3 linked regions of the Homo sapiens genome follow. The protein of the gene in region 1 interacts with the protein of each later gene in a pairwise test. Each region holds a gene or a part of one and is shown on either strand. Other genes may lie near its edges.

Evidence for each region.
Region 2: the proteins of APBB2 (region 1) and MECOM interact in binary tests that used the Homo sapiens proteins (3 or more experiments, as listed by UniProt).
Region 3: the proteins of APBB2 (region 1) and TIGD1 interact in binary tests that used the Homo sapiens proteins (3 or more experiments, as listed by UniProt).

The regions. Positions count from the first base shown.
Region 1 is NC_000004.12:40,819,505-40,826,542, forward strand, and holds part of APBB2 (amyloid beta precursor protein binding family B member 2), read right to left. Parts: intron 6,467-7,038; coding exon 6,383-6,466; intron 4,256-6,382; coding exon 4,140-4,255; intron 2,547-4,139; coding exon 2,367-2,546; intron 1-2,366. UniProt on the Homo sapiens protein: Plays a role in the maintenance of lens transparency, and may also play a role in muscle cell strength. Involved in hippocampal neurite branching and neuromuscular junction formation, as a result plays a role in spatial memory functioning.
Region 2 is NC_000003.12:169,660,713-169,668,094, forward strand, and holds the start of MECOM (histone-lysine N-methyltransferase MECOM), read right to left. Parts: upstream 3,001-7,382; 5' UTR 2,661-3,000; coding exon 2,624-2,660; intron 451-2,623; exon of another isoform or gene 124-450; intron 1-123.
Region 3 is NC_000002.12:232,543,383-232,546,144, reverse strand, and holds the end of TIGD1 (tigger transposable element-derived protein 1), read left to right. Parts: 3' UTR 1-428; coding exon of another isoform or gene 429-602; 3' UTR 603-1,242; coding exon of another isoform or gene 1,243-1,373; 3' UTR 1,374-1,564; coding exon of another isoform or gene 1,565-1,778; 3' UTR 1,779-2,262; downstream 2,263-2,762. Other genes in the region: CHRNG (acetylcholine receptor subunit gamma precursor), read right to left, coding at 429-602, 1,243-1,373, 1,565-1,778, 2,446-2,560, 2,756-2,762.

The DNA.
Region 1 (7,038 bases):
CTCCATTTTCCACAAAAGAAAACCTAGCTGGGCATGGTGGTGCTCCCCTGCCGTTCCAGGGAGGAGTTCAAGACCAACCTGGGGAATATAGCAAGATCCCATCTCTTAAAAAAAATAAAATAAAATAAAAATAAAGAATAAAAAAGGGGCAGGCCTCTCCTGTCCTGAAATAAACACATGAACAAACCCTCCAATGCTGCCCTTCAAGCTCCCCCTCACTGGCAAACTTTGTAAGTTATCTGCTTTTAGGGCCTCCACTTCTTTTTCTTCCCAGTTACTTCTCAATCCAGCACAGTCTCATACTTATTTTTCTTATTTATTTTTTTGAGACAGGGTCTCGCTCTGTCACCCAGGCTGGACTACAGTGGTGCCATCGTAGCTCACTGCACCTCGACCTCCTGGGTTTGAGCCATCCTCCCACCTTAGCCTCCTCAGAAGCTGGGACTACAGGCATGTGCCACCACGCCCGGCTGAAAGTGAAGATCCTCATACTTTTATTTACAGCACTTTCTACACTGTAACAGAGTTTAGGTTTCTGTGTCTCCCCCACTATACCTGAGCTCTACAATGCAAGGACTGTATCTCAGTCATGCTGAATGCCCCAGATTCCAGCCCGTAAGTGCGAGGCTGAATTAAATGAAGCCCAGGGGCTTCACATGCAGCAGTTCTCCCCCAGCCAGGCAGCTCGGTGCTTCTCAAAGCCTCTGCTCCTGTTTGTTCCCAACGCTGCTCTCCTAGCGTGGACGCTCCTCCTCTCTCCCATCTGCAGAAGGTAACTGGGCTCCTGGCTGATCGCCACCTCAGCCTTGTTCCTCCAACCTATCCTCTACTTGGTTGTCTTCTTTTTTTGCTGGATACTCGTCTAAAATCTAAATACAGGCTGGGTGCGGTGGCTCATGCCGGTAATCCCAGCACTTGGGAGGCTGAGGCGGGTGGATTACCTGAGGTCAGGAGTTTGAGACCAGCCTGGCCAACATGATGAAGCCCCATCTCTACTAAAAATATAAAAAATTAGCCAGGCGTGGTGGCAGGTGCCTGTAATCCCAGCTATTTGGGAGGCTGAGGCAAGAGAATCACTTAAACCCAGGAGGCGAAGGTTGCAGTGAGCTGAGATCGCGCCATTGCACTCCAGCCTGGGCAACAAAAGCAAAACTTCATCTCAATAAATAAATAAATAAATAATCTAAATACAATCAATTCAATCCCCAGTTTAGCAATCCTTGCTGAAGAAAATCAGGCCCCCACACGCCATCATCATAAGCCCGCCATGATCTGGACCGCACCTCCTTCCACTCGGGCCCAGCACCCAACCTGCTGCTGCTGGAACACACCTGCCCACAGGCTTTGGTGCCCACACTCATATAGCTCCCTCATTTTTTTTTGAGATGGGTTTCCCTCTTGTTGCCCAGGCTGGAGTGCAATGACGCGATCTCGGTTCACTGCAACCTCTGCCTCTCAGGTTCAAGTGATTCTCCTGCCTCAGCCTCCCGAGTAGCTGGGATTACAGGGATGCGCCACCACGCTGGCTAATTTTGTATTTTTAGTAGAGACAGGGCTTCTCCATTTGGTCAGGCTGGTCTTGAACTTCTGACCTCAAGTGATCCGCCTGCCTCAGCCTCCCAGAGTGTTGGGATTACAGGCGTAAGCCACCACCCCCGGCCCAGTTCCCTCATTTTTATTAGAACTTTTGCAGTGTCTGGCATAAGAGGGGCACAAAGACACATGCTGAAGGAATAATGAGGGATTCTTGTTTGTTTCCAAGTATCCATGTGGTATAAAGAGCTCTGACTTTGTCACCTGGCAGCTTGGGGCTGAATCCAGGCTCGGCTCTGTCACTTACCGACAAGCCCTGAGGCCCATTCTCTAACTTCCCTAAAGTCTCTATTTTCTCATAAATAAAACAGAACTAACAACTACCTAACAGAGTTGTCGGAAGGACTGAGTTAACAGATATAAATAAAATATATAAGAACGGTGTACAGAAACCAATCACTGGAAACAAAAGTCATTCAATGTATTGATTTTTAAAGTACTGAATTGAACCCAAACAGTACCAACTCATACACGACCAACATTTCACACATGAAATTGATTTGGGATCAAGGATTGACCGTCGTCAAGGTGGTGGTTATGAAACTCATCGGAGCCTCTATCTGGCCCCACTTCTTTCAGGAGTTCTGGCCTTTGGAGATGTAATCTGTTTATCATAACTGATTCTGGCCCTAGGAATGACGGCGTTATAAAGTAAAGCATTACTTTAGGGATTCGACTTTTTTCATTTCCGTGAGTGATTCTGCTATAATGTATGGCATATTAGAGATGAGCAGAGGCGGGAGGGCTCAACAGCCTGTACCGGGATAACTCACCATGCAGGCGGCCTGCACCGCCTCAGACACGTTACCAGCATTAGGCTCGCACCAGAAAACGTGGCACTCAAAGCGCTGGTTCCCCGTGTCCATGATGAAGGCAAATGTGTGGACGTCCTTCCCAACACCCATGAAGGACAGGAATCGCACACGACATTCCACTAAGACTTCCTCTTCATTCTGCAAGAGACATTATGCGGCATCCAATCAGGAGATCCCAGGATCAAGCTTAAGAGTGGCAGCACATAGGAACTGGCATTCAGAAAGTATAGCCAGGCCGAATTCAGAAAGGACCTGTGTTTTTCTCGAAAGGCGGAACCTTGCCCAAATGTCTGAAGAGGCCATCACTGCATGGCTACCCTGTTCTGGAGGTCATTCTTGCTCTGAACTACACTGCTGTCATGGGGTGTGATGTGGGTCCCATTCTCCATTATGCTACGTGGCTGTGAGTTCACTGTGGGGAGGGACAGTGCCGTCCATACTTCTTACATCTAGCCCAAATACAGGACACCTGGTGGCCCAAAACCCATTTGGCCAAGTAAACCCCCAGAGCACCAGAAAAAAGGGATTCACGGTATCTTTCTTCGTCCAGTGATTCTTACCCAAACTAAACAGCACACTGAATCACATTTCCATCTAAAACCATATAAAACAAAAAGCTGCCAAATCAACAAAAAGTTGTCAAATTGTTTTTTTCTTTTCTCTCTTGCAAACTGGTGTCCATCTGGGATCCACATGAGGCAGCGTAAAGAAATGTTCAGAATTCTTTCTCATAGGGATGAACACCACATCCTTTGCAAGAACCATATGCAAGTTTTGAATTAATAAACACATCCAAAATGTTGACTTTTGGATCATTAACATCTTGACTAATTAAATATTCACTCTAGTGCCTTGGGAGTGTTTAATGAGCAAAGTACACTAGTGTGAGAGGTCGGGAAGTTTTCTCAGGAGGAAGGAGGCTGTGGTGGTGATCTGGGTAAGGGTCGGGTAGGCAGAGGGTGGAGCATGGAGGGTGCAGTGCTTGCGATGATGCTGGTGTGGGGAAGGGCGGGACCTACTTGAAGAGGTGAGGAGAGCTCAGTGTGGCCAGCTGGAGGCAGGCAGTGAGCACCCTGCTCCTCTCTCCAGGGTGAACCGGGCAGCTGTGGGGCAGGCTGATGACTGGTGGTCTTTCCCTGGCAGGTGCTTCACAGAGGCAGAATAGAAAAGTGGGCACAAGTCTGGGCCAGGTTGCCTGGATTTAAGTCCTGATTCCATTGCTTCCAACTGTGTGATGCTGGGCAAATGACTTAGCCTCTCTGTGCTTCAATTTCTTCAACCACGAAACTGAGATAATTTGGGCTGAGGCTAATGTGGCCTCTTCTCAAGACAACCAATAGCTCCTTCTGCTACTGATAGTCACAGGACTCTCCCAAATGGAAGCATCTTCTGCTTTTCATCCCCAGATCACACAGCCCAGGCAATACTGGCGCCCTGAGAGTGAGCGACTACTAGCGTCACACACTCACCTCTAGCAAACAATTTCTCTCTGGGGCACATGAGGAAGACAGAATCAGAAGCACCAGAAGAGAAGTTTCTCAGGCCACAGGAAAACAGAGGTATGCACAGATTTAGACCCAGACAAAGGGCCAAATCTTTCAAATGTAGGCCATCTTAATCACAAGGATGCACAACTCCGGCCTTGACTATGTTCCTAAGTTCCACAGAAAACCACTGTATCTTATACTCACTGTATAAGACACACCAATGTCATCGAAGATTCCTTCTCACCTTTTCACTGATGACAGTCACAGTGGCATCAGCCACGTTCATGTTCACTGACAGCCAGTCCTCCTTGTTGGATGAGGTCATAAGATTTTCTATGGCACTGTTCAAAATATCCATTCCTGGGGACAGAAAAGGATAATTTAAAGTGTCCTAAAGCCACTTACCACACTCAAATGTGGGCCCAAATCACCAATAACAGCTACGCCCAGACTGATCTTTTTTTAATAGACAGGACACTTCATTCTCATGTTTGCTCAACAGGAATGAAATACCAGCTTCTGGCCGGGCGTAGTGGCTCACGCCTGTAATCTCAGCACTTTGGGAGGCTGAGCCAGGATCATTTGAGGTCAGGAGTTCGAGACCAGCCTGGCCAACACGGTGAAACCCTGTCTCTACTAAAAATACAAAAATTAGCTGGACATGCTTGCTTGAACCCAGGAGGCGGAGGCTGCAGTGAGCTGAGATCGCACCACTGCACTCCAGCCTGGGCAAGTATCAGTGAGACTCTGTCTCAAAAAACAAAAAAAGAAAAAGAAAAAAAAGAAATAACAGCCTTTTCAGTAGGAGAGGAGAGTCAGGAGAAGCTCCGGGGACCTGGTGCCTTAGACGCTGTCTACCTATGCAGACCATGGCCCTTCAGCCTCTCTCCACCCTCACTGTCTCTTGATGGCACCTTTACAGTGGATCCCCCCATTGAGTAGGGCCCTTTTGCCAGCTGTTTCCACAGTTTTTCTGGGGGATAGGGGTGGGAGTGACAGCTTTATTGAGGTATCATTCACATGCAATTCACTCACGTAAAGTGTGCAATCCAGTGGATTTTAGTACATTCACAGAGCGCACCCATCACCATCATCAATTTTTTTTTGAGACAGGGTGTTGCTCTGTCACCCAGGCTGGAGTGCAGTGGTACAATCACGGCTCACTGTAGCCTCAGCCTCCCAGGCTCAGATGATCCTCCCACCTCGGCCTCTGGAGTAGCTGGGACTACAGGTACATGCCACCATGCCCAGCTAATTTTTTGAATTTTTTTTGTAGAGATGAGGTTTTGCCATGTTGCCTGGGCTGGTCTTGAACTTCTGGGCTCAAGCAATCCACCTGCCTTGGCTTCCCAAAGTGCTGAGATTACAGGTGTGAGCCACCATGCTAGACCTACCATAATCAATTTTAGAACAGTTTCATCACCCCAAAGAGAAACCCCGTGCCTGGTAGGGGTCATTCTGCATTTTTCCCCCACTCCCCAGACCCCTAGACCAAGGCAACCCTTACCTACTTTCTGACGCTAGAGCTCTGCCTATTTTGGGCGTTTCATATGAACGTAATCACACAGTATGCAGTCTTTTGGGACTGACTTCCCTCATAGCATGTTTTCAGGCTTCATCCACGCTACAGCGCACTTCAGTCCTTCATTCCTTTTTATTGCCAAATAAAATTCCACTGTATGGAAGTATCACATCTTATTTATCTAATTGTCAGTTGATTTGTCAGGACATTCAGGTTGTTTCGCTTTTTGACTCTCATCAATAATTCTGCTGTGAACATTTGCATACACGTTTTTGCATGCACAAACGTTTTCACTTCTCTTGGGTCTACGCCTAGGAACTGAGTTGCTGGGTCTAAAGTAACTATGTTTCACCTTCTGAAGAATGCCAGACTGTTTTCCAAAGCAGCTGCACCATCTTACAGCCCCCTTGGCAGTATATGTAGCTTGCGATTTCTCCACAGCCTTTTTTAGCCCTGGTGAAGGCTTCATCTCCCAGTCTCTTTTTGGCTTGGTATAGCCCAGCAACTACACTCTGCCCCTGGCATGTGAGCTGAATGCTGTGTGTGCCACTACTGTGTCACTCCTTGACAGCATGAAGCCTCCACAGTCCTTTCTCCTGGCCCGCCAGCTGACAAGACACGAAGCAGGTGCCCTGGCCTCAGAGATGGAGGCCTCGTTTCAGAGCAGCGGAGCTCTTCCACGGCCCTGAGTCACACAGCTCTGGACTACTGGGTAAACAAGAAATCCACGTCTGTATTGCTAAAGTCCTGCATGCTGGGGATGACAGGTCAAAGCAGCGGGGCCTGTCCCTCTACTCATCTTTTGATCAGGACCGTTTATGTTCTCTGGCAGGTGACAGTGTGACAGTTTGATTCAAGACAAGGCGTGAGAGTAAACAGCAGACCTCACCCTCCTCGGAGGGCGAACGCCTCCTGTGAGCTCCCGCACACTTGCAAAGTGGAAAGACAATAAACATTTCACATACCGACTGGTTTGTCTACAGGTAACATGCCCAAGTACTGCACGTGGAACTTCTGGACCAGCTCAGTCTTTGGTGTTGGAAAATCTACTACAGGGAACAAAAGCAACACATCTTTCTCAGTGGTTCCAACACACATGTACACAACAGCCGTGGCTCTGCATCATCTGAATGCTCAGGACACGCCCTGTGCCATAACGCCCTATGTTTCTGGATGTAAATGTAACAACTATTCTACAAGAGCAGCATTACTCCAGATATTGGGGCTCTGTTAAAATCCTGTTCAACTTTCAAGATAGGAATGCATGTGAAAGCAGGAAGTGGCATCTATGTGTTAAAGCTGCTACTGTCTCTTTGATGTATATTAAGTAAAGTAGCAGCTTTTGGTGTCCTATTTAATTAGGTGTGGTTGATGCCCAGAGAAAATGTAACCTCAAAGGGCACAATCAGAGACATAGGAAGATAACTGAGTTCCCCCAGTAATCAACCCACGTTTTTTTTTTTTTAGAGACAAGAGTCTCGCTCTGTTGCCCAGGCTGGAGTGCAGTGGTGCGATCTTGGCTCGCTGCAACCTCCATCTCCTGGGTTCTAGCAATTCTACAGGTGCATGCTGCCATACCTGGCTAATTTTTTGTATTTTAGTAGAGACAGGGTTTCACCAT
Region 2 (7,382 bases), on another chromosome or scaffold:
TTCGTTGGATGATTGCACCGCAGGGGTCACCAACCATCTCCGCCACGCGCTACTCGGGGGAAGGAAATCGCGCTTTAAAATACAAAAATCTGTAGTTTTAATATGATTTCCTTTATTACCCAGATTGTAACTGAAGAATTGCAACGCAGCGCTTCTGTCTGGGAAAGGCAGCTGCGGCAGCAACAGCTGGAGTAGTGCAAGCGGGAATCTGAGGCTCAGTAAAAGTTTGTAAGAGTTGAGATCTAGCTATCAGAAAGCGGCAGCGGCATCCTTAGAGACCCTGGGGACAAAATAAATGGGTCTCCCACCAGTTGAATGACAAGTATCATCAGATCGGAAACGAGGCTCAGTTTCTGGATGCTGAGTGGACTGTGCGTGCGGGAATATTTTAAGACGGCATCGTATGTCTTGCTTGGCAATTAAAATAGTTGAAAAAGTTGCTCAAGAAAATTCGAAGGGTTTTGTGTTCTGCTTTCACTTCAGAAGTTATCGGGCAGTGAGTTGCGGCGCGAAGCCTTAAGCTTTCACTTCACAACTTAGGCATGGTTGAAAAGGGCTACCCACCCCCACCCACCATCCCACTCCCGCCAACTCCCCCCCCCACACACACACTCTCTCTCTCTCCCAACCTTTAGTCCAAATCGAAGCCCGCAAACCTCAAGTATATGTACATTTATTTCCCTTCAGATGAAAATAAAGACATCGGCCTCATTTAAAAGCAAACAGGGAAAACAGTTCCACCGGCGCCCTTTGACACTGTAGCAGCGAGTGTAAAGAACAACACCCAAAAGAGAAACAGATGGACTGATGACCCAAAGAGCCCTATATTTAGGTTGATTTCTCAGACCCAGGGGAAAGGAAATGTATCGGGGAGTGTACGAGTGCTTGGGTGAGGACTGCACAAAGCACTGGAAAGGCGCCTGGGATGACAGCATCTCGCGGGGCTACACCGCCGACTCCAATGCCCGCGAAGCCGAGCCTGCTGAGGTGCCGCCGACTTCCCGGGCTGCTGCAGGGACGCAGTGAGCAAGGAGGCGTGGATACGATACCTACCGTATTTGGTTCTAATGTGCGAGGGTCGCGCGGGGGGAGACTGGGATTTCACTGGGGAGAAGCATCCCACCCATCTCCGATCTCTCATTTCTGCGTTCCGTAAACAACACAATTAGAGAGTTTTGTTTTCGGCGAGTGCGAGTGTGGGAGAGAGAACCGCGGCCTGTCCACTCCCGAGGCAGCTCCAGCCCCGCCTATTGACACCTCAAGGAAGAGCGCTCCCAGCCGCTCCGGGGCTCAGTGTCCCTGAGTCCCCTTCAACTCGAAGTAGAAGCATTTGGACAAACGCAGTCCTGTCGTCTACAGTCCTGGCGGAGCATCACACCGTGTGGGAAAGTGTGGGCCCCGCCGGCAAAGCCAGGCGAGTCATCCAACACTTTTGCTGTAAGAGTGGGGGATGGGACTCCCACCGCCCCCTCCCCAAACCCCTTAGCCCACATCCCGCCAGACCAAGGCCGCTCCGCGCCGGGCAGGCAGGGGGCGCCGGGGAGGGTTATTGACCCTGGACCCAGGCTGCACCCAGACGAAGCGCCGGAGGCTGCGCTGCGCCCTCTCCGCGGCCCAACGCTCTGGCAGCCCGCCCCCTGGGGTTTGCTCGGCGCCCAGCAAGCCCGAGGTGCGCGGGTCGCAGCGCGCCCTCTCTGCCTCCTGCTCCTAGGCTGCCGCCGCTGGCTGTGTGCCCTCCACTCCCGGCTCTCCGAGCGCTCGCTGGGCCTCTTCTCTCCCCACGTCCGAGCGCTCGCTGGGCCTCTTTCCTCCCCACCTGCGCGTGGCTGTGCGGAGCCGGTAGCTCTGCTCTGCCCGTGCCCCCGCCCCCACCCCGCGATCACAGCCCCCACCTTGGTGTCCCCTACTCCCCGCCGCAGTCCTCCCGCCGCGCAGCGCCGCGCCGGAGAGCATGGCCGAGCGCACAGCGCCCACTACCGCAGCCGCGGCTCGGCGCAGTCCACCCGCCCGCCCGCGCAACTTCCAGCGGCCGCCTCGCAACTTTTCCCAAGTCCACCACAGCCGCCCGCCGCCGCCGCCACTGTGGCTCCCTCTGAGCCGCCTACCCTACCCAAACCCCAGAAACAAACCGAGGCTCGAAAAGGCTCCCTTCTCCTGCCGGCCCCCCATCCCCCGCGCCCCCCTCCTCCCACACCCGGGACTAGCTGGTTGGCCAGAGGCAACTCTCCCCCGCCTGGGGGGAAGGGGAGGGGAGGGGGAGACTTTCTCCTCTTCTCTTCCCCCCCACCCCACCCCTTCGCGCTCACTCTCGCGCTCTCTCCTCCCTCCCACCCCTAGTCTTTGCTGCCCCCACCCCCACCCCCACCCCGGGGTTGCCACAGCTGGTCGGTGCGCGGGACTGAGGGCTGCCCAGGCTCCTCCGGCGCCCAACCCGGGAGCGAGAGCGCGGGCGACCGGGAGCAGAGACTGGAACCGGCAGGTTGCTGGGGCTGCGCTCCGCCTGCCCTCCACCCGGGGCCCCGGCGCAAGAGGCAGCCCGCGCTCCCTCCCGGAGCGCTAGAGACAGATATGCAAGATGGCAGAGGAGGGGGAAAAGCCAATAGAAAAGGGATATTGCACCTACTTGTGGCCAGTTTCCTTGCCCTGCCTTTGGATCTCATGCTGTGCCCAGTCCTGCAGCCGCTGGTGTGTGGTTGGGGCTTTTTTTTCTTGGATCCTTTCCTTCTTTTGCTCTCCCTCTCGCTCCCTCCCTCTCTCTCCTGTCTCTCTCTCTCTCTCTCTCTCTCTCTCTCTCTCTCTCTCTCTCTCTCTCTCTCTCCCTCCCTCCTGTTTCTCTCCTGTTTCTCTCTCTCTTCCACACACTCACTCTCTGTATTTTCTTCTTTCACTCTCTCTCCCTCCCTCTCTCCCTTTCTCTCAATCCACACTCGCTATCTCTCCAGCATTGTCAGTTTGGACACCTTCGCACATGCGCGCTAGACGCCCCTCCAACATCTCAGCGCCGCCAAAAAAAGTTTGGAGCGATTTATCACTTTGATTTGGAGATCTTGTCAGATGGCAATCGCCGAGGAGGCGGAGAAAGGGAGCCGCGGGGAGGGCGGCGGGGGGCGGGGAGCGAACGCAGGGAGCCAGAGGGGAGCAGACACCTCGCCCAAAAAAAGGGGAGGGGGGAATTGAAAAGGCTTGGGCAGAGGATTGATTCCATGTTAGAATCGCCAACAAGCTTGTATCATGATTATTGTTATTGTTTTTCCCACCATAAATTGCAGACATTTTTCTATACCATCTACGAGGGAAGCAAGAAGCCAGGGGGGAAAAAAACTTTAAAAACATTTTTTAAAAACCCTTCTCCTGTTAAAGAACTAGAAGGGCTGGACCCTCGGCTAATAATCCAGGAGAAAGTGAGAATCATCCTGAACTTGAGAAATCTACTGCTGCCGCTGCTACTGCTACTGAAGCTATTGCAGCTTCCGCTTTCAGGGTTGTAAGCAGAATAAATAACTGGTTTTTTCCTCGATTTTAGCTGTAATACCAATGCTTGCTGCCATCCTTGGGACATTTCAGTATTCTTTCCCTACCAAGTAGTAATGATCACCCTTGATTCCCGGGTCCGGGCCGGCGCTGGCATTTGACATCCAAAGACCTCCTGCTTTCTCAGAGGTCGGCTGTCACCTTCCGGCCTCCCCCACTGCTGCCCCGGTCGCCTCCCGATGCAGCTCTGCTTGCCTGCCATTTTCACTCACTCGCTTAAACCTACAACCTCGGGGTCAAAAGAAAGAGGAGTAGGGAGGAAAATCACACACTCTTAAAAAAATACATTGTTGAAATTTCCTTTAATTACAGGATTTACCAATGAAGTGCCACTCAGAAATGGGAATTCCTAAAGGGGCTAGCTGTGTACAAGGTATGAATCAATCCCAACTAGGTATAGATTTTCTTTTGGTACAACCTTCTTGCATTAAACAGTTTTGTTCAATACCTTCCATGTGCTATTTATGTCCCCATTAATATCTGTTGCAAATCCTGCCAGACACCATAAAAGAAAATTACAATCTTTTCAGTCTCCGTGCTGCAACAATACATCCTTGATGTTCAAGTTAAAGGAAAAGAAAAGCAGGTCCTGGGCATGAGTTTGGCAAAGGCTGTGGAGGGAAAGGGGAATCATTGAGAATGCCCAGTCGTACCTGTTGGTATTTATTATCAAATCTAGGACTGCAGACATGAGAGAGCAAATAACAAGGTTCAACCCCAAAGGGTATCAATGGCCTGCAAATCTCTTTATTCAAGAGAATCAAAGTTCAAAGAATTTGTCCTTGTTAAGGATGCCTACCATTTTCCTTTATCCAGAGCTGTGTAATTCTGGGGGCATTTGGCTGTAAGATAGAGGTCCCTGGAGAACCAAGCTACAGGTCTCAAGGGAGACAGATGTATAAGGTTGAAATGTGAGGAAGGGAAGTAGGAAGGTAAAGGAGGGAATTACTCACAACAGGAGTAAAACAACTTCCAAAAGAGAAGGCTCTAGTGCCCACACGCGTGGGCACAAGAGAACTCTATTATCCACTCTGAATTAAAGAGGCACCTGGGTTTTTTTCCAGACCTAGAATTCCCGCTGTCCTGTGCATAAAGGTGAGTGTGCTAACACATTTGGTGTGTGCAAAAGCACCAGCCATTCCAACATTCTGTTAGGTTCACACAGGTCTTTGACTCTGAAACTTCCCCCAAAATGTGACTCCACCAGCTTCCCTCAGTTTAGATGGAGAGGTGCCTACCCTCTGACCAGCAAATGTCCTCCGAGGAAACGGAGAAATGGGTCTTGAGAGGCTTTGGAAGGGGGGACAAAATCTCTAGGGAGAGACAAACACTAGGCTGACTGGCAAGAAGTTCATAAGGCTGCTTCTGATCGGTGTAAGAGACTCTCTAGGGACCATCCCCTAGGCCAGGGGACAGACCAGCAGCACCTGAAGATCCCAGCTGTCAAAATCTAGGTCTTGTCCCTCCAATCCTCACCTTCCCTGCCAGGCACCCCAGGGGTGGCTGAGCACCTTGCCTTGGTGCCCAACCGCCAAGGTAGCTTAAAAAAAAAAAAGAAAGAGAAGAAAAGAAAAAAGAAAAGAACCGCCATCCTCCCCTCCACTCCTCCGGCTAATCCCTTTCACCTCATCCCCAGGGGGTCTGTCTATGTCTAGGTTCCCTTGGAGACGGGAGGTTAAGAGGGGTGCAAGAAATGTTCCTAGGAAAGGAGGGGACCAAGGTACCAAACTCTGAGATTAAATGCAAGACCCACATGTGAAGCTGAGCTTGCTGTTGCTGCTGAGAAATTATAAACCACGTGGAGGGTTGGGGAGGTAGGGGGTGGGTTCTGTGAGGGGAACTGGGTGGGAGGTGGAAGACTGAAGTGAATCGGAGTCTCCGAACCTCCAAATTTAAAGGTCCCCGTCTTTTAAACTTTTCTAGAAGGGGGGTTGGCGGAGTGGGAGGCGGAATGAGGCGCGGCTGGAGTACCCCTCCCCTTCTGGTTTGAAGTCTCCGCTGTCGCTTCAGCGCTCCAGCTTTCTCCCTGGTCTTTCTAACAGTTTCGGGCCACGAGAAAATCCAACCCCTTCTAACAAATAATAAACGCAAACTCTTCTCTGTCCCCAGACCAAGCCATTGTGAAAAGACAAGACATCGTCTTTTAAATAAATAAAAGTATTCTCAATATCATTCGTTTTTTATTTTCAAACCTAAAAGCTGGGCTTCTTTTCCTTTTCTCTCCTTTTCTTTTTCTTTCTTTATCATTAGCTTTCTGCCCTAAGTGTGCGCTAATAAAGAGCTAAGTTGCTAGTTCAAGTGTGTTTAACCTGATGGAGCAAACACCCAGCAGCAACCGGTCGCGCTCGCGGCTGATAGCGCCGCGACCTCTGCGCGTCCGCCCCGGCCGGTTCCCATTCTCAAGTGCCTGGACCCTGTCACTTCCACCTGTCCCAGTCCCAGCCGTGAGACCAGAGCAGGTGACTGTTCAGCAGCCCCTAGAGTTCCCGACACCCTCTGACGGGATGTCTGAGCTGTCGCTGGCCCAAGAGAAAAGAGGCCTCCAACAAGTTGGCGGAGCTGCCCTAGCTACCCGCCCCCACCCCACCTCTCGCCTTTCCCTCTCCTCCTGAAATTCGTTTTCTTGGGGGACAGTAGCATGCATTCCAACGTTTCCTTGTGTTTTCTCCCACGGAAGCGAGCATCCTGGAAGCAGTGCCTCGTTGGAAAGTCGATGGGTTTACAGACTGTCTGGGTTTGCTTGTTTTATTGCTGTCACTTTTTGTTTCGTGTTTTTGTTTGTTTAGCAGAAGTGAAGAGATTGAGATAGAAGTTAGAAGGAAAATGGGACATTGATGAGAAAGACACAGACAAGTATATCCCTTCCCCAACTATATTTTTTAAATTAATGTTAGAAATGGCAAATAACCGATTTTCAATACATTACATGCAACAGGAAGTTTTCCTTTCCTCTCATTTTAATTGAACCGGCCCCACGGTATCTTTGGAAGAAAGTTTGAATTCTTTATGGAGGTATTTCGAGGCCTATTGTCTTTGTGCAGTGAACTTTACATCATGCTATTCAATCACAACCTATATTCTCCTGGCTACCAGCAAGATTAATTTAATCATTGTAATGCAATTATTAATACTGTTTACCCAATGCTGGGTTTCAGGTTGGCTGTTAAGAAATTAAACTCTCGCTGGGTGACCAGAGCTAGGCAGGGGTTTCTTCATGTTGAAATGAAACAGTCCTCTTTATTTAGTCTCAGGGCTCCAGCTTTCGGCCACCGGCTCAATTAGCCAAAATGGAAACAATTTTCATTCATTGCAATAACTCACTGTTCTGGAGATCGCTTTCAAAATACACACTTTATTATACGCTGACCTCGGTGGCGTGGAGTGGCAATAAAAGAAAGAGGCAGGGAGATCTATCTAGCCCCCTTGGGCTATAATTATTAGAAATTAATTGGGTTCAGGACCCTGGGTAGCCTAGCTAAATTAATAGCTTGTCTAGTGGTTTAAATCCGAATTTTCAGTCCACAGGAGAGAAAGGGAGAGAGTCACAGACATGAAATGCAGACCCAAGGGACGCCTGAGTTTACTTGCAAGACACTCATCTATTAAATAGTGTCCAGAATACATTTGAGTTGAGGAGGGGGGCTGAAGTAGGAGGGAGCAGGGGCGACAAGAAAGAATGGAGCAAGATGGGGAGGGAGGCTGAGAGTGAGCGAAAAGGTCTCGAGTTGATTTTATTCGATTTTTCTTGTCTGCATTGTTTTCGGGAGGGGTTGCATTTAGGGGTTAAAATAAAAAATAAAGATCCTGTGTACTCGGAGCTGTCGTGCCGGAGTAAAAGTGAAAAGGGAGCC
Region 3 (2,762 bases), on another chromosome or scaffold:
TCGGCTGCTACTCTTCACACCTCTTGTGACTGCCCTCTTTCAGGGAGAACTTGTAAAAGGGGAGCCAGTCCCAAGTCCGAAGGTATTATACAAAACAGTCCTTCGGGCTTCAGACTGATGGGAATGAATAATGCTTTGCCTAAGTGAGGGGAGTGCACTGAGTGGAGGGGTGGCTGGTGCCAGGATGAGCTAGCCAATCCCACGTGTGTGCTGACTGCAGCAGGACACTAGCCACGGCCCACCCCCAACCACTCTCGGACTCCAGCTCAGACTGTTTCCCCAGCTTTTCTCAGGGCTGTTTGGCTCACACAGTCCTGAAGGGCACTTCCCAAAGAGCACACTTAGGACCTCAGTAGGAGAACGTGGCTGATAAGACTCAGTGTGACCCACGTGTGTGACTCCCACATGCCCCACAGTGGTTGGTTGGCTCAGTCTGGTGAGGGCAGGTAGGGGCGTGGATCTCCAGGGAATGGCAGGGCCGGCACCCGGTTGTAGTGGGCCATGAGGAAGATGCCAGCTGTGCCACAGATGAAGAGCGAGAGCATGGCCAGGAAGCAGACGCGGTCCAGCACTCGGCCCACCAGGAACCACTCCTCATTCCCCTGAGGGTGGGAGGCAGGTGTGGGATAACCAGCGGCGGCACCAGGTCTTCCCTGGGTCCTGTTCTCATCCTTGGGCTTCCAGCAGGCCCATGTCTCCATTTCCTGGGGCCCTTCTTACCTATGTCCGGGTCCCAACTGGTGGCTAATTCCATGGCCCCCTGGCCCTGAGGTGCCCCCCCTGCCCCTGTTCCTTTTTCTTTCTTTCTTTCCTTTTTTTTTTTTTTGAGACGGAGTCTCACGTCTCACTCTTTCACCCAGGCCAGAGTGCAGTGGTGCGATCTTGGCTTGGCTCACTGCAACCTCCGCCTCCCAGGTTCAAGCAATTCTCCTGCCTCAGCCTCCTGAGTAGCTGGGAATACAGGTGCCCGCCACCACACCCAGCTAATTTTTGGTATTTTTGGTATTTTTGGTAGAGATAGGGTTTTGCCATGTTGGCCAGGCTGGTCTCAAACTCCTGACCTCAGGTGATCCACTCGCCTCGGCCTCCCAAAGTACTGGGATTACAGGTGTGACCCACTGCACCCGGCCTCATGTTTTTCCATCCCACTGCCCTATCTTGGCAACCCCACTCATCCTGTCTCTATCACGGTTCCAAGCCCAGGTACTCACTCCACCTCCACCCCACCCTGACTCAGCTTACATTGTCAAAGTGACTCTGCTGGTGCCGGGCACAGGCAATGAGGTTGCAGGCTTCCACACAGGCCTGGATGGCTGGGGCAGCCTGCTTCAGGCTGCCACAGAACTGGCTCAGCCCTAACTCCGGGCCTTTCTCTGATAAAGAGAAAGGGTAAGGTTTGGGAGTAGAATGGAGGAGAAACAGGCAGAGAAGATGGCCTCTCCTTAGGGACCCCAGCTCCTCTCTCCCTGACCTGGGCACTTCTCCAGCACTCATCTGCTGTGCCTGGCTCCCCAGCTGGGGTCCCAGGGGAGGACTGTCCCCAGGCACACCTGGTGTGTCTCACCTAGCTTCTCCAGCGCTGCCGCCACCAGCCCTTGCCGCTGCCACTGCTGGAAGAGGAGTTCACTGCGAGGCAGGCAGAGGGCCACCTCCTCCCCAGTTGTGATCGACCATCCCGAGGAGCCATTCTGTAGCCGGGACTGGGTGTCCTGCACAGCTGCCGGGGCCAGCGGGCGAACGTGCATCCTCAGCAGCTGGGGCAAGAGCCTCAGGAACACCTAGAGAGGGGGTGGCTTCACTAGGGCAGCAGGCCGAGCTTCAGAGCAGAAGCCAGAGGTTGGCGTGAAGGGCTTGTGCTGCTAGGGACCATGGAGGCAGCATACCGGGGCAGTGACGTGGCCTTGGTAAAGCTTTCTATACTGGACACGAGCCTGGGTCCCCAAACTTCAGTGCACATCAGAATCACCAGGGCACTTGTTATAAACACAGATTCCTGCCCCCAGCCCTCATGCTATTCTGGCCTAGAATGCCTGGGACAGGCCTGGGAATCTGCATGTGCAACAAGGGCCCAAGCTGAAGGCTGCAGGTGGGCTACAGATCACACAGACTGGAATCAGACTGCCCTGGCAGACTCCTGCTTTTTCGACTTTGTAGTGCACTTCCTTGGGCAGGTTACTTAACCTCTCTGCGCCTCAACGTCCTCATCTGTAATTGGAGGTGATATGGGTTTTATGAAGATGAAATACATTAACATTTGTAATATCCCGGGCACCTAGGAAGCAATTTCATTCCTGTATTACTGTAATCGATTTTGGTCCATGCGTCCAGATACGCCCAGGATGGGTGTGCTGTGGAATGCCACAGGTGAGTACTGCCGGGGCGTGCGAGAGGGAGGCGTAGGGGAGTGGGCAGCGGGATGTTGAAGTGGGCAGGGAGGGTCCTTGCCTTGCGGACCCCTCGGGCCATGGAGTGTGTGTGTGGAGACCGCAAGGAGACATTGAGCACAACCACAGCATTCACGACAATGAGGATGGTCACCACCAGGAGGAAGGTCAGGTACCTGTCAGGGTGGGGTGGGCAGGAGCTGGCAGCCCATACCATGATGCCACCCCCACGCTTAGTGGCTGCCCCCCCTCAGGCCTCCTGAATTGAGGATGGGGGGGGTGGATGGAGGGCAAGAGGGCAATGCAGGAGGCCATCATGCTCCCAAGAAGGGAGAGTGGCATAGGCGGGTGGACATGAAGACCAGCCTTACTTGCTGA